Regions from separate parts of the Homo sapiens genome. Here region 1 is linked to region 2. Evidence: fine-mapped expression QTL. A gene starts in region 2. The other region holds a variant in brackets. All regions are shown on one strand. Distances are between the middles of the regions. Region 1 has its middle 13 kb from the start of MIR219A2HG. Region 2 holds the start of COQ4 (coenzyme Q4).

Region 1 (9,929 bases), 83 kb before region 2:
CCTGGGTTCAAGCGATTCTCCTGCCTCAGCCTCCCAAGTATCTGGGATTACCCGCCACCATGCCCAGTTGATTTTTGTATTTTTAGTAGAGATGGGGTTTCACCATGTTGGTCAGGCTGGTCTCCAATTCCTGACCTCAGGTGATCCACCTGCCTTGGCCTCCCAAAGTGCTCAGATTACAGGCATGAGCCACCGTGCCCAGCCTGCTAAGTGCTTTAAATGTATTATATAACTTGATTTTCACGACAACCCTGTGAAGTCAGGAAATCTTTTTTTTTTAATTTTTTTTTGAGATGGATTCTTGCTCTGCCGCCTAGGCTAGAGTGCAGTGGTACTATCTTAACTCAGTGCAACCTCTACCTCCCTGGTTCAAGCAATTCTCCTGCCTCAGTTTCCCAAGTAGCTGGGATGACAGGCACGTGCCACCAGGCCCAGCTAATTTTTGTATTTTTAGTAGAGATGAGGTTTCACCATGTTGACCAGGCTGGTTTTGAACTCCTGACCTCAAGTGATCTGCCCGCCTTGGCCTCCCAAAATGCTGGGATTATAGGTGTGAGCCACCATGCCTGGCCAGTTGGGAATATTTTTATTTTACAGAAGAGGAAACCTTGAAACTGAGGCACGGAGAATCTAAATAAATCACTTGCCAAGCTCATCCAGAGTTGGGGTTTGGGGTTTGAAACCAAGTCTGCCTGTCTCACTCTGGCCAGCCCTGGTGACTCTGGAACTGCTGTTGGTGTTACTGTTTAAGTTCCCTGGAGCTTTTTGCCCCAGGCTTTCTCTCCCTGTCCTCAGTCGCCCCACCTGTGGAATGGGGACACTCTATGCATGGAGTAAACACCACCAGTTCTGAGTCTGGAGCTGTGTCAGGTTCTGTGCTCGATTCTTTCCAAGTATTTATTAGCGAATTACTCCTCCTGGTGGCTACGGTCGGCCTGGGCTAGAATCCCAGCTCTGCTGCCTCCAGACTGCCTGGCTTTGGGCAAGTGACTGGACCTCTCAAGAGTCTAGCAGTCTCCAAAGCTGCAAAATGGAGACAGGAAAAACGCCTCTGCATCTTTGATTTTGTTATGGAAAGGATGAGATGACGCAGATGAAGTGATTAGCCCAGGACCTGACCCAGAGGTAGTGGGTGGGAAATGCTGCCTGTTACTCTTCTATTTAACCACAATGGTCAAGGGCAGGATCCAAGTGGCCCATGCACCACCGCGTGCCCCCATGCTCAGCTCAGAGCTGGTACGTAGGAGGGCTCCATCATTACCTGTGAATGAACCTGGTCCGTGGTCCCCACATGGGGAAAGCAGGCTGGGAGAGGGCCACACCTGTCCAAGATCACACAGTTACCGGGTGGAGCTGGATTCAGCCCCGTCCGTGAGTCTGCCAAGGTCCCCTGCTCTGACTCCTGTACCCCTAGGGCCTTCTCTCTCGAGGCCAGAACCTGGAGTAGGGAGGGGACAGGGGAACAGGGACAATCTCAGGGCTAAGACAACCCAGAAGGTGACTTGGCTGTGGCTGGGTGGGATCTCAGGGTCTGGGAACGACCCCTCAGGATGCAGTGACCCGTGCTCTCCCTTTTTGTCCTCTCCCCCCTGCCCACCATGGGTCAGTTCCCTGGTCCCAGCCTAGACATCTGGAACTGGGGCAGACAAAGGGCTGCGGGAAGGGACAATAACCTTCTGTCCATTTTCAGATGTCGGGCCGCGCCTGGCCAGGGCTGGGGGCCGGAGCCCCGGCGAGGCGGTGCCAGGCCCCCCGCGGGCAGCGGACAATGTTGGCAGTGATGGAGAGGAGGCATTTCAAAGCGTTTTGTTCCCGCTGACCCCCTCCCCCCAACATCTCGCCCCAGCTCGGGGCGAGGCCCCATCCCCACCCCCAGCCACCCAGGCCTCTGCTCTGGGCGGCTTGGGGACCAGCCACATTCTTGACCTCAGGGGAAAAGTTTAGACTCTTTGCGCCCTGGGCAACAATAACAGTGTCACAGAACTGATTTAGGAGCAGCACTTACCATCACAAAGCAGCAGACAAAGAGCCGGGCTGAGAACGCGCCGGGCCGCTGCGACTACTCCACCAACCGCGGCTCACTTCTCTCCAGGCTCTGCCAGGCAGGACTGGGTGCCAGGCCCCACACCCTAGGCACACCAGGGGAGGACTTGAGGTGGGCAGTCATCAAGAAGAGACAGGGGAAACCAACCGGGAATGTGGAGGACTGAGAGCTAGTTCCTGCTCCACCACCAATTTGCTACGTGACCCTGAGCAAGTCCTTCCCCACTGTGGGCCTCAGTTTCCCTATCTGTAGTAAGAAGGCTAAACTATAAGGCCAAAAGCACGAGGCTCTGATCTTGCAGGTAGAAGAGTTTCAATGAGGATGATGACAGTGGTGATGGTGGTGCTGCCAAGCCCCCCTCCTCCAACTCCTTTACCCCTAGGGCCTTCTTTCTTGAGGCCAGAACCCGGACTAGGGAGGGGACAGGGGAACAGGGACAATCCCATGGCTAAGTAAGACAACCCAGAAGGTGACTTGGCTGTGGCTGGGTGGGATCTCAGGGTCTGGGAACGACCCCTCAGGATGCAGTGAGAAGTATTTGCCACTTGGTCCTGTGCACTTCAGAGGTGCCAGGCACTGTGCTCACTAAGCCCTTTCAGACCTTCATACCCTTTTATCATGTAAACTTTTTCAGACTCACAAAGCAGATGTATAATTAGCTCCACTTTACACTTGATAAGCTAAGGCTCAGAGAAGTTCAGTCATTTGTCCAACGCCACACAGCCTGGAGGTTGTGGAGCCAATACTCAAGGCGGAGCCGCTTCCTTCCTGAAATTATACTCCAGTGGGAAGGAGAGAGGAACAACGAGGCAGCTGGACATGGTGAGTTCTGGCTGGGAGGGTCTTCCCTCCCTGCCAGAAGGCTATGAATAAAGAAATGTCTGCTTATCCCCAGGGGAAATTCCATCCTTGGAGCAGGTGCCTTTATTTATTTATTTATTTATTTATTTATTTATTTATTTTTTGAGACAGAATCTCGCTCTGTCACCCAGGCTGGAGTGCAGTGGCGCGAACTTGGCTCACTGCAACCTCCACCTCCCGGGTTCAAGCGATTCTCCTGCCTCAGCCTCCCGAGTAGCTGGGACTACAGGCACCCGCCACTACGCCTGGCTAATTTTTGTATTTTTAGTAGAGATGGAGTTTCACCATATTGGCCAGGCTGGTCTCTCAACTCCTGACCTTGTGATCAGCCCTCCTTGGCCTCCCAAAGTGCTGGGATTACAGGCGTGAACCACTGTGCCCAGCTGCAGTTGCCTTTAAAAACGAGGTTGGACAAGCACTTTGGGAGGCTCCCGCCTGTAATCCCAGCACTTTGGGAGGCTGAGGCAGGTGGATCACTTAAGCCCAGGAGCTCAAGACCAGCCTGGGCAACATGGCAAAACTCCATCTCTACAAAAAATACAAAAATCAGCCAAGCATGGTGGCCATTCACTCCAGCCTGGGCGACAGGGTGAGACTGTGTCTCAAAAAATAAAAATAAAGTTTATTTAAAAAAAAGCTTGATTGATTTTTATCTGTGAACAGAGGTGGGCCTGGGTAGACATCCAGATGCAGGGGATTGAATGCAATGACCTCCAGCGGAGGCCTCCTAGGAATCAGAGGCACTATGGAAGAACGTTTAAGGGATTGGGCTCTGCAGCCAAGCTATGGGCTTGAATCCCAGCTCTTTTTCTCGCAGTGTGTCCACAGATGAGTCACTTCAATGCTCCGTGTCTCAGTTTTCCAATCTGTAAAACTGACTCCACACTGCAGGAATGTGGTGACCACCATTCAGCAAGGTACGTGGACGACCTCAGAACAGAGCCTGACCCAGTGAGGAATGCCTGTTTCTACTCGGCAGGGTCCCCCCAGCCAGGTCCCACCTCAAAGCAGGAACCACTGGGGTGCTGTGGTATGCAGTCAGCTGTTGACCTTGCTTTTTGGGAAGTGGTTGGGCTTTAAAGACAACATGAGGGACTATGGTTAGACACCAAGAACAAAGACGCCATTCTCTGGGGGATGTAAGGCAAAAGCCAACCACGGCTTCCCAGGGATAGTCAGAGGAGATTGTGGCGCTCTGAGGCCCAGGCAGGGGCTGCTCCTGCTACTAGGCTGGGCCCTGGGCATGGTGCCTGGAGAGACAACAGAAAGGAAAGGCCTGGAGGTGCTAGGCAGAGTCGGCTCCCTCCACCCCTCAGCCTCTTAAATTCAGGGGGAAACTGCATGTGGAGAGGGAAAGAGAGAGGTGGTCAAAGATGGCTTCCATAACACAAACAGCCTGCGGTGTGATGAGGGGGCCTGGTGGGTTTGAGTACCAGCAGTTTGCTGTGTCACCCGGGATGAACTGCTAACTCTCTCTGAGCTCATTCCAAAGGTCTTTTAGAATCCAAAGTGTTAAAAGGAAACCATTACAGCAGCCTCTGTGATTTCACAAATCTAATCAGAAAGTTGGCTAGGCTGGGTGCGGTAGCTCAGGCCTGTAATCACAGCATTTAGGGAGGCTGAGGTGGGAGGATTGCTTGAGCCCAGGAGTTCAAGACCAGCCTGGGCAACATAGTGAGACCTTATCTTTTTTTTTTTTTTTTTAATATAAAGATATATTCCATGCAAGAGAGACCTCATCTTTTAAAACAGAAATTTAAAAATCATACAAATAAAAATAAAACACAAAAACCTGGCTGGGAATCCAGGAGTCCTATACCCTAGACTCCAGCCCCTCCTACCTCCTCACATTCCCAGCCCTCTCCTCCAGCTTCTCTAACCATCCCTTCAGCTCCCCTCACCAAACCATCAGTGACACACGAGTCCCAGACAGAGGGTGAGACAGTCACAACAGAAAAGGCCACAGAACCATGAGGACTCACGGAGATTGTGGGGGTCTTGGGGAGCCCCGACATGGACAACCTCTCCCTCCCTCACTGCCTGGCTGTGGGGCCAGAGGAGCACTCACCCGGGCAGAGCCTCTTGGGGGTACTCCTCAGCCCAGGAGGTGGATGGCACTGCTGGGGCGTCTCTGGCATAAGGTGACTCCCACCCAGCTCCTGCTGCTGAGAAGGACTGGTCAGGCGGGGCCCTCAGGTGCCAGACCGCCCTTCCCGGGCACAGATTTTCCTGGCATCTGCTGGGCAGGAAGGGCACTGGCTGGGGGTTGGGCAGAGGAGCAGGGAAAGATTTGAGCAAAGACGTCTCCCAGAGGGCTTCCCCCTAAACCTTCACCCCACTCTCCTTCTGGACACTGTAGGCCAAAGGTCCAGGAAGACAGGGAGCCTCAGGAGTGGGGAGAGGTCTGATCAAGGAGGCTGAGAGGAGCCCAGGCCCCTGCCCCCCGACCGCTCCCATCCACTGCCAGCAGGGCCCACACGGAGGTGTTTGCTTTTCCTGCCTCTACACTGACTCCATTCAGAGCAGCCGATCCCCACCCCCGGCCAACGACCAGAAAGTCAGGGCACCAGGGAGTGAGATCACGGCCCCCACCTCCCCCTCCACAACCCTTCCTGCCCTCTTCACTGCAGGAGATACCTCAGCCACAAGGGCTTCCTAGTTTCATGGACGACTGGGGCGTGGGGGGCTGGCAGGAGGAGAGAAAGAGGGAAACCAAGTCGAGAAGAGGGTGGTGGGAAGTATCTGAGGAGAGGGACGCAAAGGGACACGGACGATAGGGCTCCTGATGGAGGCGGCCCAGGCAGAGATGGGGCAGGGACAGGATGGGGGAGCCACAGAGCAGAGGACTGTCTAGGAGGCAGGCAGGGCCGTCACTAACCAGTCCAGGGCCTCACAGCCTGGCTCTGCACCGGTCACGGCCAGCAGGGCCCGGAGTGGACACTGA[G/C]GATGGGAGCTCCTGGCGCCCACCTGGAAACCAGCCTCCTTCTCATCCCCGGAACAAGGGCCCAGGCAGAGCTGTGACCTGGTCTGTGGCCAGGGGAAGGAGGAGGGTGAAAAGTTTCCCCAAGTCAGAAGGCCATGGGGGAGGCATCTCAGGGGGTCCTGCTCTTTGCTGTCTCTGACTGTCACATTGGTACATAAAGGGGGTAGAAAGGTCAGATGCGGCCTTTCAGGCCCGTGGGAAAAACTCAGCCCATTTCCCTAATCCATATTTATTGGTGTGAGACACTGGGGTGGGAGGAAGCCCGCTGCCCCCACCCGCCGCCCCAGCCAGGCCAGGTTAGCACTAAGAACAGGCTCCATGTCACCCAAATCCTACTCTTTGTCTCCAGATTGGCTCCAGAATCCTCCCCCATCCCTCCTCCCCTTGGTCCCCCCCACCCAACCCCCCTCGGGGTTGCCAAGCAACCATGGAAGGGTAGCTGAGATATTTTCTTTATTACAAGCAAAAGCAAGACAGCATCATGGCCCCAGGAGGGGAGCAGGGTGGGGGCTGGGGGAGAGGGTGTCCTGTGCTCTGGGGGGACTCAGCCACCTCCACTTGTTCTGAGCGTGAGCAGTGGGGAGACAGGGCCCCAGAGCCCAAGAGAAGGAGGGAGATGGAAGAGAGTGTTGGTGAAGGGGTGGGTGGAGTGTGCAGACACTGGTCCACTCTACACAATGCTAAAAGATGGGGTGGTGCCATGAGACCCAGGCCTGAGTCTCTCACCTGCCACCCACCAGCTGTGCCATCTGCACCCAAGTCACTTCCCTTCTCTGGGCCTGTTTCCTCCTTGATAAAATGGGAATAATAATATGTATTATCTCATTTAATCCTCACAAAAGACCCAGGAGATGTTTATTTTTCCTATTTTATTGGTTAAGGAAGCTGAGGTTGGGAGGTATGAAGTCATGTGCCAAGCAGGTAAGTGGCAGAGGTGGGATTCCTGAGCCCCATCCCTCTCTTTTTATCTTTTTTTTTTTTTTTTTGAGATGGAGTCTTGCTCTGTCACCCAGGCTGGAGTGCAGTGGCAGAGTGGCGGGATCTTGGCTCATTGCAACCTCCGCCTCCCGGGTTCACGCCATTCTCCTGCCTCAGCCTCCGGAGTAGCTGGGACTACAGGTGCCCACCACCATGCCCAGCTAATTGTTTGTATTTTTAGTAGAGATGGGATTTCACCGTGTTAGCCAGGATGGTGTCGATCTCCTGACCTCATGATCCACCCGCTTCGGCCAGTGCTGGGATTACAGGTGTGAGCCGCTTCGGCCAGTGCTAGGATTACAGGTGTGAGCCACTGTGCCCGGCCTCTTTTTTTTTCATAACAGCATTGTTGAGATGTAATTCACATGCCATGCAATTTGCCTACTTAAAGTGTATCATTCAACAGCTTTTAGTATATTCAAGAATTGTGCAACCATCACAACAAGCCATTTTATATTTTCATTATTTTGAAAAGAAAGCCCATACTCAGGCTGGGCGTGGTGGCTCACACCTGTAATCCCAGCACTTTGGGAGGTCAAGGTGGGCTGATCACCTGAGGTCAAGAGTTCAAGATCAGCCTGGGCAACATGGTGAAACTACATCTCTACTAGAAAAATACAAAAATTAGCAGGGCGTGGTGGTGGGCACTTGTAATCCCAGCTACTCGGGAGGTTGAGGCAAGGAGAATTGCTTGAACCCAGGAGACGGAGGTTGCAGTGAGCTGAGATCGCACCACTGCACTCCAGCCTGCATGACAGAGTGAGACTCCATCTCAAAAAAAGAAAGAAAGAAAGAAAGCCCATACTCATTAGCCATCATTCCCCATTTCTCCCCAACTGCCCTTCTCCCCAGCCCTAGGCAACCACTAATCTGCTTTCTGTCTCAATAGATTTGCCTATTCTGGATATTTCATGTAAATGGAATTATACAGTATGTCTAAGTCCCAATTATTATTATTTTTTAGACATGGTTTCTCTCTGTCACCCAGGCTGGAGTGCAGTGGCACACTCATGGCTCACTGCAGCCTCAACCTCCTAGACTCAAGTGATCCTTCTGCCTCAGCCTCCCAAGCAGCTGGGACTACAGGCACCCATCACCATGCCCAGCTAATTTTTTTTTTTTGCAGAGATGGGTTCCCACTATGTTGTCCAGGATGGTCTTGAACTCTCGTGAGTCCCAACTCCTTAACTTCCAATGGTTCCTACTTCACTGGGTACTGGGGCAATAGAGTAAGAGGAGTGAGGTGGTGAAGTATTGAAGAATGTGGTCTTTGCAGATACGCAGACTTAGGTCTAAAACAAACCTAGGGCCGGGTGTGGTGGCTCATGCCTGTAATCCCAGCACTTTGGGAGGCTGAGGTGGGCAGATCACCTGAGATCAGGAGTTCAAGACCAGTCTGACCAACATGGAGAAACCTCGTCTCTACTAAAAATACAAAATTAGTTGGGCGTGATGGCACATGGCTGTAATCCCAGCTACTTGGGAGGTTGAGGCAGGAGAATAGCTTGAACCTGGGAGGTGGAGGTTGCAGTGAGCCAAGATCATGCCATTGCACTCCAGCCTGGGCAACAAGAGCGAAACTCCATCTCAAAAAAAAAAAAAAAAAAAACCAAAACTCTAGCTCTTGGCAGGGCGTGGTGGCTCACAACTATAATACCAACACTTTGGGAAGCAGAGGTGGGAAGATCACTTGAGCCTAGGAGTTTAGGACCAGTCTAGGCAACATAGCAAGACCTCATCTCTCTTTTTTATTATTTTTTTTGAGACGGAGTCTCGCTCTGTCGCCCAGGCTAGAGTCCAGTGGTGCGATCTCGGCTCACTACAAGCTCCGCCTCCCAGGTTCATGCCATTCTTCTGCCTCAGCCTCCAGAGTAGCTGGGACTACAGGCGCCCTCCACCACGCCTGGCTAATTTTTTTGTATTTTTAGTAGAGACAGGGTTTCATCGTGTTAGCCAGGAAGGATCTCTCTTTCTTTCTTTTTAGACAGAGTCTCACTCTGATGCCCAGGCTGCAATGCAGTGACGAGATCTACACTCATTGCAACCTCCACTTCCTGGGTTCAAGCAATTCTCCCACCTCAGCCTCCAGAGTAGCTGGGATTACGGGTGCCCACCAACACACCCAGTTATTTTTTTTATTTTTTGGTAGAAACGGGGTTTCACCATGTTGGCCACACTGGTCTTGAACTCCTGAGCTCAAGCAATCCACCTGCCTCGGCCTCCCAAAGTGATGGGATTACAGGCACAAGCCACCGTGCCCGGCCTGGGACCCCATCTCTATTAAAAATAATAATAATTAATTGACACTGGGTGCGGTGGCTCATGCCTGTAATCCCAGCACTTTGAAAGGCTGAGGCGGGTGGATCACCTGAGGTCAGGAGTTCAAGACTAGCCTGACCAACACAGTGAAACCCTGTCTCTACTAAAAATACAAAATTAGCTAGGCGTGGTGGCACATGCCTGTAATCCCAGCTACTTGGGAGGATGAGGCACCCAGGAGGCAGAGGTTGCAGTGAGCCGAGATCACACCACTGCACTCTAGCCTGGGCAACAAGAGCGAAATTCTGTCTCAAAAAAAAAAAAAAAAAGATTAATTGAAATCAATAAAACCTATCTCTGTCATTCAGGAGCTCTGTACCTGGGGGAAGTTGCTTGCTCTCTCTTGGCCTCAGGTTCCTAGTGGGTAAAATGCGGAGAGTGATAGAATTTCTCTGAAGGGCTGTAGTGATGCATGTCAAGCGCTTAGCCCAGTGCTCAGTGCTTAATATATGGTAGTTGTTGCTAACTAGATTACAATGGTCCAGATTACAATGGTCCATGTATCTATTTATTCCTTGACCCAGGTATTTAATAAAACAGCACCTTCCGGCCGGGCGTGGTGGCTCACGCCTGTAATCCCAGCACTTTGGGAGGCCGAGGCGGGTGGATCATGAGGTTAGGAGATCGAGATCATCCTGGCTAACACGGTGAAACCCCATCTCTATTAAAAGTACAAAAAGTTAGCCACGTGTGGTGGTGGGCGCCTGTTGTCCCGGCTACTCGGGAGGCTGAGGCAGGAGAATG
Region 2 (9,702 bases):
GCTGGGACTATGGGTATACACCACCACACTTGGCTAATTTTTGCATTTTTTGCAGAGACAGGGTTTCACCATGTTGTCCAGGCTGGTCTCAAACTCCTGGGCTCAAGTGATCCGCCCACTTCAGCCCCCCAAAGTATTAGGATTACAGGCATGAGCCAACACGCATGGACCAGTGCCAGAATATTCTAATTACTTGAAACATTTTACCTGTATTTTTATATGAATTTTTTTGTTTTGTTTTGTTGGAGACAGAGTCTCACTCTGTCGCCCAGGCTGGAGTGCAGTGGTGTGATCTCAGCTCACTGCAACCTGTGCCTCCCGGGTTCAATCAATTCTCCTGCCTCAGCCTCCCGAGTAGCTGGGATTACAGGCGCACACCATCACACCTAGCTAATTTTTGTATTTTTAGTAGAGACAGGTTTCCACCATGTTGGTCAGACTGGTCTCAAACTCCTGACCTTAGGTGGTCCTCCCGCCAGCCTCCCAAAGTGCTGGGATTACAGATGTGAGCCACTGTGCCTTCCCTGAAAATTTTTAAAAACTATTTTATTGTCTACCTCTCGAAGTAGAATAGAAATGAGGGCAGGGAACTTGGCTGTCTAGTTCACCATTATATCCCCTGTACACAAAACAATGGTTGGGCTGGGCACGGTGGCTCACACCTGTAGTCCCAGCATTTTGGGAGGCTGAGGCAGGTGGATCACTTGAGGTCAGGAGTTCAAGACCAGCCTGGTTAATATGGTAAAACCCCTCTCTACTAAAAGTACAAAAATTAGCTGGGCGTTGTGGTGTGCACCTGTAGTCCCAGCTACGTGGGGGGTTGAGGCAGGAGAATCGCTTGAACCCAGGAAGCTGAGTTGCAGTGAGCCGAGACGGCGCCACTGCACTCCAGCCTGGGTGGCAGAGCGGGACCCTGTCTCAAAACAAAACAAAACAAAAAGGATGGGCCGGGCGCTGTGGCTCACGCCTGTAATCCCAGCACTTTGGGAGGCTGATGCGGGCGGATCACGTGGTCAGGAGATCGAGACCATCCTGGCTAGCACGGTGAAACCCCGTCTCTACTAAAAAATACAAAAAATTAGCCGGGCGTCGTGGCGGGCGCCTGTAGTCCCAGCTACTCGGGAGGCTGAGGCAGGAGAATGGCGTGTACCTGGGAGGCGGAGCTTGCAGTGAGCAGAGATCGCACCACTGCACTCTAGCCTGGGCGACAGAGCGACTCAAAAAAAAAAAGGGATGGCACATAGCAGAGCCTCAGTTAGTGAATGAGTTTGCCAATAGTCGGGACACCCCCTTTCCCCCTCTCCTTGTCCTCCCTGCCTGGGGCTGGAGGGGCTGGAGAGTGCCACACCTGCCATACCGTAGGGAAAGCAATGTCCCTGGAATAAAGGGATACAGTACAGCAGTGAAGAGCATGATCTGGGATTGATTACTATCTCCATTAATACCAGTTATGTGGAATTAGCAAGTTTGCTTCACTGCTCTGAGCCTCTGTTTCCTTATCTGCTAAAAGAGGATAATAATAGAACATACTTGACAGAGTTGTGGGGGGATTCAGCAAGATCACGGATGAGGCTGGCATCAGGCATGCAGTGCGAGGTTAATGAACACTGGCCAGTATTATCAATTGCAGGCATGTTCCCACCCATTTGCCTATCCCATAGAAAATGACAAAGCCTTGGCATGAGCCTGAAGAGCACTCCTGCCAATGGTGGCAGCTCAGGGCTCCTCTTTCCTCAGGGTGTCATGCCTGTGCTATTCCTCTGTCCTGTCTGGTGACTGCCAGATACACAGGAGCTGAAAACTCACGTTCACATCCAGGAAACGGAGATACTCGCGACCGAGGGAGCCTTCCGGCAGGCTCTGGAGCTTGCCCAGGTCGAGGGTGGATGTCGAAATCCGGGGACGCTCCCTGAAAGGCAAGACTTGGGCATTGGGAGGGTGTGGGCAAAGGTAGGTGAACGATCCAACTACAGCGAGCTGAGGGGCGGGAGAATGTACAGAGGAGCAATGTGGCCACCACAAGCCTTAATGGAGCACCTACAACTGGCCAGGCTAGTGTCAGGGACTTAGGATACTACCCCAAACCAAGGACATGGGCAGGGGTACAATCTCGGCAGGAAGACAGTCCTCGAATGTGACCAGAGTACTTGCAAAAGGTACTGCAAGGGAGGGGTAAAGCCAGCACATGTTATGGGAACTTAATGAAGGCACAGAGCCCTGTGGTTGAAACTGGGCCAAGGCTATCACACTGCACAACTCGGAAGTCATCAGTGTATACACATGTATGTGAATGACACCCCTGGAATTGGGCAGTGCCCAGCCTGTGCAACCATATGTAGCCAGGGTATCAAAAGCTCCCTAGCGGAACAGAACAAACACAATGTGATTCTAGAGAGGTCAGAATACCTAGAGAATGCCCCCAGACCCCCAGGCAGAGCTGGGACCTACTGCAGGATCTGGGCACCCTCTGGATCCCTCCTCATCTGGTCCCTGAGGACCTTCAGGGTGCGGTGTCCTGTGGTCTCCCCTAGAACTGCGACCATGTCTGAAAGGACAGAAACGGGCACAAATGGGGGATGTCATCTTAGGTAAGTTAGCTGACCTGGTCTGAGCCTTTGTTTCCTACAGGATAAATTAGGGATGATGTCTAGCTCTTTGTTATAAGGATTCAGGCTAAACACTTAGCAAATTACCCAGCACACAACAAGGGATCAGTATACATATCTATAGTTCTTATTCTTAATCTACTGGGGCGGGACAGCTCTAGTTAGCACAACGTTGTAAAGATTTTATAAATCACTTTTCACAATACAATATCATGTCTCCATTGATTGGTAGAGGCTTAGGCATCAGAGATGCTGGGCTACAGTCCAGGTGTGTTCACTATCTAGGTGACCTAGTACAAATTGCTTCACATTTCTGTTTTGTTTTGTTTTTTTGAGACAGGGTCTTGCTCTGTTGCCCAGGCTGGAGTGAAGTGGTGTGATCATAGCTCACTGCTAGGACTACAGGCATGCAGCTAGTTTTTTAAATTTTCTGTAGAGATGAGGTCTTGCTATGTTGCCCAGGCTGGTCTTGAACTTTGGCCCCAAGTGATCCTCCCACCTTGGATTCCCAAATTGCTGGGATTACAGGTGTGAGCCACCATGCCTGGCCTGCTTCACATTTTTCAGCCTCAGTGTCTTAATTTGTGAAGTGCAGACAACACCTTTCTTAGCTGGTTAATGTGAGAAACCATGAAAATCATATATATATAACACTTAGTGGCCAAGTGTAGCGGCTGACACCTGTAATCTCAACACTGGGGGGCTGAGGCAGGAGGATCACTTGAGGCCAAGAGTTCCAGAGCAGCCTGGGCAACGTGGCAAGACGCCGTCTCTACAAAAAAATTAAAAAATTCGCTGGTCTTGGCCGGGCGTGGTGGCTCATGCCTGTAATCCCAACACTTTGGGAGGCCGAGGTGGGAGGATCACCTGAAGTCAGGAGTTTGAGACCAGCCTGGGCAACATAGCAAAATCCCGTCTCTACTAAAAATACAACAATTAGCCAGGCCGCACAGGCCTGTAATCCCAGCTACTCAGGAGGCTGAGGCACGAGAATCGCTTGAACCTGGGAGGTGGAAGTTGCATAGAGCTGAGATTGCGCCACTGCACTCCAGCGTGGGCCACAGAGCAATACTGTGTCTCAAAACAAAACAAACAAAAAACCACTGGGGACATGGAGATATAGTGTATTTTTTGTTTAAGACAGGGTCTCGCTCTGTCGCCCAGGCTGGAGTGCAATGGCGCAATCACAACTTACTGCAGTCTCGAACTCCCCGGCTCAAATGGTCCTTCCACCTCAGCCTGGGAATACAGCCGCATGCAACCAGCCCCAATTAATTCTTGTATTTTTTTTTGTAGAGATGGGGATTCACCGTGTTGCCCAGGCTGGTTTCAAACTCCTCAGCTCAAGCCATCTGCCCGCTTCGGCCCCCCGATAGGGATTATAGGCGTGAGCCACTATAATAGCGCCTAGCCTGTTTTTGTTAGTAGGAATAACAGTACTTCCCAGAACTCAAAAATCTAGGAGGCATAAGAAAAACACTGTAGAACCCTAGAATGTTCTAGTCACACATCCAGCAAACATTTATTGAGCATTTACTATGTGCCAGGCACTATCCAGAAGGCTGCAGATGCAGTGGAACGAGGCAGACATGGTCCTCGACCTCGGAGTTGACTTTCTAGTAGGATATTATAAACTGATCGGTACTTATGAATCATCTATTTAGTCTAGATGTTCTCAATATGGCTGCATGACAGATTCTCCCAAGTAGTTTAAAGACAGACTTTCGGTTTCACGCCCATTTCTCCCTCCACTGCAGATTCAGATTCAGATTCAGTGCGTTTAGGTGGGATCCAGGAATCTGCATTTTCATAAACGTTCCGAGTGGTTACGAGCTGCAACCAGGTTTGGGTACCCCGACCTAGGCTATGTTCCAGTTACCCACAGGAAACGGCTCCAAGCCGCCCCCACGGGGGCGAGGCGCGGGCGGCCTTACCGTGGCGGTAGGGGTTATAGAGCGCCATCGCCGCGGAGCCGGCGGCCAACAGCCCTTTCTGCAGCGGGGAGGTGGGGAGGTGGTGCGAGTATAGCGGGCCGGCGCCGTCGCTCCTAGCCCGGAGGGGCATTTCTGCGGGGCAAGAAAAAGGCCGAGGTCAGAGGAGCCGGGCGCCCTCAGGCTCCTTCCCGCCTGCGCCCAGAACCCGGCGCCACTTGCCTGCCGCAGGCCGCTGTAGGCCCGGGAGCCCGCAGAGCCGACGGAGGACAGGGCGCAGCAGAGTCGCCATGGCAGCGGGCGTCCGCGGAGGATGGGCGGGTACGAAGAACGCCGCGATTCTGTCAGGCGACGGAGCGTCGGAGGGGTCAAAACTCACTGAAAAACCGATTCTGACGGCGTAGCCTACGGCCTTTCGAGGGGAAACATCGCTTCACGGGCAGAAGGCATGTAGGCCAAGTAGGCGAAGGAAACGCACGCGAACTGTCTACCGTCTACGTCCACCGATCCAAGACTCTCGCCATGTCACCTCGCCCCAGAAAGTGTCTGCAAAGGACACGCAACCACGCTCACTCAGCGCCGGGCCCTATTTCCTTCTCCACAGCCGGTTTTCCCCGAAGACTATAAAATGCGAACCTCTTCCGGCTGTGGAACATGGCGGCGCCCGTGGAAAGGACCACATTTGGGGGCGGGGCCTGGCGGTACTTCCGTCCAGGTCCAGCGGGTGCTGTGATCTTCAAGTATGGGGTCTGCTGGCTTGTCGCGGCTGCATGGGCTTTTCGCGGTCTATAAGCCCCCGGGGCTAAAATGGAAGCACCTGCGGGATACAGTGGAGCTACAACTTCTGAAGGGTGAGTGCCTCGAACCAGACCCACGTTCCCGCTCTCGTTCTCTTGGAAGTCCATCTCCGCTTCTGGTCCTTACCCCAAAACAAAATCACGTGACCTATTCACCTGGGCAGAGCGCTTTCCCAAACGCCTGTTCTCTGTGCTTTCTTACTCCTCACTTTCCTCTGTTTTCCGAGGGGGAAACTGACTCAGTATTGTTCCTTGTCACACGGTTACTACGTTGTAGAGTCTGTTTGAATCCGCCTGTTTCTTAACTACTGCTATACTGCCCTCTGCACCATGGGCTTCTGCTTTGTCTTCTACATCATACTTCCCTGTTGTCTAATCCCCCAAGTGTTTGGACAGAACAAGATATTCCTGGTCAGCATCGTGGTGCACGCCTGTAATCCCAGCTACTCTGGAGGCTGAGGCAGGAGGATCGCTTGAGCCCAAGAGTTTGACGTTACAGTGAGCTATGATGGCGCCATTGCACTTCAGCCTGGGCTACAGAACGAGGCCCTGTCTCTTAAAAAATATTTTATATGTACATATATTTGTATGTATGTGTGTATATATTATCTCTGTGTGTTCAGGTCTCAATGCCAGGAAGCCTCCCGCTCCTAAACAGCGTGTTCGCTTCTTGCTGGGCCCCATGGAAGGCAGCGAAGAGAAGGAGCTGACCCTCACAGCCACCAGCGTACCCTCTTTCATCAACCATCCACTGGGTAAGGCAGATTTAAGCAGGATCCTGTGTGTCACTTCCCAGGAAATCCCTGAGCCGAGTCAGTGTCCCAGTGCTCAGATTCCTGTGCCAGGCCCTTGAAGGTCCACAGAGGAGTGAGGTATTAGACCAGGAATTGGCAGATTTCCTTGGAAAGGGCCAGATACTGAATGTTTTAGTTTTCAGGCCATGTGATTTCCGTTGGAACTGCTCAACTCTGCCAATGTAGTGCCAAACAGCTATAGACAGTATCTAAAGGAATGAGCCTAGCTGTATTCCAATAGAACTTTATGAATATTCATATTTGAACTTCAGGTAATTTTCACGTGTCACTAAGTACAGTTGCCTCTGAGTCCATGAGTTCCACATCCCATGATCCAGCTTCAGATTGGCAGTATTTGGGAAGAAAAACACAAAGTTCCAAAAAGCAAAACTTGAATTTGCTGTGCACCTAGTACTGTGTTGAATCCACTCAAGGTGATGCATAGGCATTATATTAGGCATTATAAGTAATCTAGCTAGGCGTGGTGGCTCACGCCTGTAATCCCAGCATTTTGAGAGGCCGAGGAGGGTGGATCATGAGGTCAAGAGATCGAGACCATCCTGGCCAACATGGTGAAACCCCGTCTCTACTAAAAATACAAAAATTAGCCGGGAGTGGTGGCAGGCGCCTGTAGTCCCAGTTGCTCAGGAGGCTGAGGCAGGAGAATCACTTGAACCCGGGAGGCGGAGGTTGCAGTGAGCCGAAATTGTGCCACTGCACGCCAGCCTGGCAACAGAGCGAGACTCCGTCTCAAAAAAAAAAAGGTAATCTAGAGATGATTTAAAATATATGGGAAGGCCAGGCCTGGTGGCTCATGCTTGTAATCCCAGCACTTTGGGAAGCTGAGGCGGTGGATTACTTGAGCCTAGGAGTTTAACATCAGCCTGGGCAACATGGGGAAACCCTACTTCTACAAGAGAATACAAAAGGCCGGGTGCAGTGGCTCACACCTGTAATCCCAGCACTTTGGGAGGCTGAGGCGAGCAGATCACCTGAGGTCGGGAGTTCGAGACCAGCCTGGCCAACATGGAGAAACCCCGTCTCTACTAAAAATACAAAATTAGACAGGTGTGGTGGCACATGCCTATAATCCCAGGTTCTCAGGAGGCTGAGGCAGGAGAATTGCTTGAACCCGGGAGTCGGAGGTTGCGGTGAGCTTAGGTTGTGCCATTGCACTCTAGCCTGGACAATAAGAGTGAAACTGTCTCAAAAAAAAAAAAAAATTAGCCAGGTGGGGTGGCATATGCCTGTAGTTCCAGCTACTCGGGAGGTTGAGGTGGGAGAATCACTTGAGCCCAGGAGTTCAGAGGCTGCAGTGAGCCGAGACTGTGCCAGTGCACTCCAGCCTGGGTGACAGAGTGAGACTCTGTCTCCAAAAAAAATAAAGAGGCTGAGGTGGGCGGATCACGAGGTCAGGAAATCGAGACCATCCTGGCTAATACGGTGATACCCTGTCTCTACTAAAAATACAAAGAAATTAGCCGGGCGTGGTGGTGGGCGCCTGTAGTCCCAGCTACTCCAGAGGCTGAGGCAGGAGAATGGCGTGAACCCAGGAGGCGGAGCTTGCAGTGAGCGGAGATCGTGCCACTGCACTCCAGCCTGGGCGACACAGCGAGACTCAGTCTCAAAAAAAAAAAAAGTGGCCAGGTGTGGTGGCTCACGCCTGTAATCGCTGCACTTTGGGAGGCCAAGGTGGGCGGATCACTTGAGGTCAGGAGTTCAAGACATGGCAAAGCCCCGTCTCTAGTAAAAATTAGCTGGGCATGATAGCACGTACCTGTAATCCCAGCTACTCAGGAGGCTGAGTTACGAGGAGTCGCACGAACCTGGGAGGCAGAGGTTGTGGTGAGCCATGATCGTGCCACTGCACTCCAGCCTGGGTGAAAGAGTGAGACTCTGCCTCAAAAAAAAAAAAAAAAGGTATATGGGACGACATGCCTAGGTTATATGCAAATACTATGCCATTTTATATCAGGGACTTGAACATCTACAAATTTTGGTATCTGCAAGGGATCCTGGACCCAATCCCCTTGGATACCAAGGGACAACTGTAGTATTCTATTTATTTAGAGACAGGGTCTCACTCTGTCACCCAGGCTGGAGGGCAGTGGTGAGATCTCGGCTCACTGAAACCTCTGCCTCCTGAGTTCAAGCAGTCTTCTCACCTAAGCCTCCCGAGTAGCTGGGACTACAGGCACAGGCCACTATGCCTGGCTAATTTTTTTTTTTTTTTTGAGACGGAGTCATGCTCTGTTGCCCAGGCTGGAGTGCAGTGGCACGATCTCGGCTCACTGCAAGCTTCTCCTCCTGGGTTCACGCCATTCTCCTGCCTCAGCCTCCCGAGTAGCTGGGACTACAGGCGCCCGCCACCACGCCCAGCTAATTTTTTGTATTTTTAGTAGAGACGGGGTTTCACCATGTTAGGCAGGATAGTCTCGATCTCCTGACCTCGTGATCCACCCGCCTCGGCCTCCCAAAGTGCTGGGATTACAGGTGTGAGCCACCACGCCCGGCCATGCCTGGCTAATTTTTGTATTTTTTGTAGAGATGGGGTTTTGTCACGTTGCCCATGCTAGTATTGAACTCCTGGGCTCAAGTGATCTGCCTGCCTCGGCGTCTCAAAGTGCTGGGATTATAAGCGTGAGCCCTTGCAACTGGTCTCTTGATTTATTTTGAACCACTGAAAAATGCAAAAACCATTCTTAACTCATAGGCCACAAAAAACAAGCCAGATGCGGTGGCTCATTCATGTAATCCCAGCACTTTGGGAGGCCGAGGCAGGCGGATCACTTGAGGTCAAGAGTTCAAGACCAGCCTGGCCAACATGATGAAACTCCGTCTCTACTAAAAATACAAAAAATTAGCTAGGTATGGAGGCAGGTGCCTGTAATCCTAGCTACTCAGGAGGCTGAGGCATGAGAATCGCTTGAATCTGGGAGGTGGAGGTTGCAGTGAGTTGAGATGGCGCCACTGCACTCCAGCCTGGGTGACAAAGTGAGACTCCATCTCAAAACAAAACAAAACAAAACAAGCAAACACACACACACAAAAAAAAAACAGTCTTCAGTCTTCAGGTTTGACTTGTGGACTGTAGTTTGCTGACCCTTTTTCTATTCTGGGACTCCAGGTGAGAAATGAGACCCTAGGTAGAAGTCCTAAGGTAGGGGTTTTGGGTTTCTGGGAAAGAATAAGTTTATTTATTTATTTATTTGACAGAGTCTTGCTCTGTTGCCCAGGCTGGAGTCTGGAGTGCAGTGGTGTGATCTCAGCTCACTGCAACCTCCATCTCCCAGGTTCAAGCTATTCTCTTGCCTCAGCCTCCCAAGTAGCTGGGATTACAGGTGTGTGCCACCACACCCAGCTAATTTTTGTATTTTTAGTAGAGATGGGGTTTCACCATGTTGGCCAGGCTGGTCTCGAACTCCTGACCTCAGGTGATCCGCCCACCTTGGCCTCCCAAAGTGCTGGGATTACAGGTGTGAGCCACTGCGCCCAGCCGAAAGAGTGATTTTTTTACTGAATAAAGTTGCCCAACAATGGAACTGGTTCTGGTAATGTGTCCCCATCACTAGAT

What was found. PIP is the estimated chance that this variant, and not a neighbour inherited with it, causes the effect.
Region 1: its variant is fine-mapped to the expression of COQ4 in esophagus mucosa (GTEx, PIP 0.99).

Annotation. Positions count from the first base shown.
Region 1 is chr9:128,401,133-128,411,061 of GRCh38, reverse strand. No RefSeq gene overlaps it. Among named protein-coding and RNA genes, the nearest start is that of MIR219A2HG, 13 kb to the right of the region's middle. RefSeq lists an enhancer at 5,505-6,305. The variant G/C (reference allele first, on the strand shown) is at 5,850.
Region 2 is chr9:128,317,986-128,327,687 of GRCh38, reverse strand. It overlaps COQ4 (coenzyme Q4), which reads right to left and starts at 4,849. Exons shown (of 7, transcript NM_016035.5): 1 at 4,760-4,849; 2 at 4,541-4,672; 3 at 2,449-2,545; 4 at 1,807-1,909. The coding sequence starts at 4,829. It overlaps TRUB2 (TruB pseudouridine synthase family member 2), which reads left to right and starts at 5,241. Exons shown (of 8, transcript NM_015679.3): 1 at 5,241-5,388; 2 at 5,958-6,089. The coding sequence starts at 5,280. RefSeq lists a silencer at 4,562-4,621 and an enhancer at 5,002-5,541.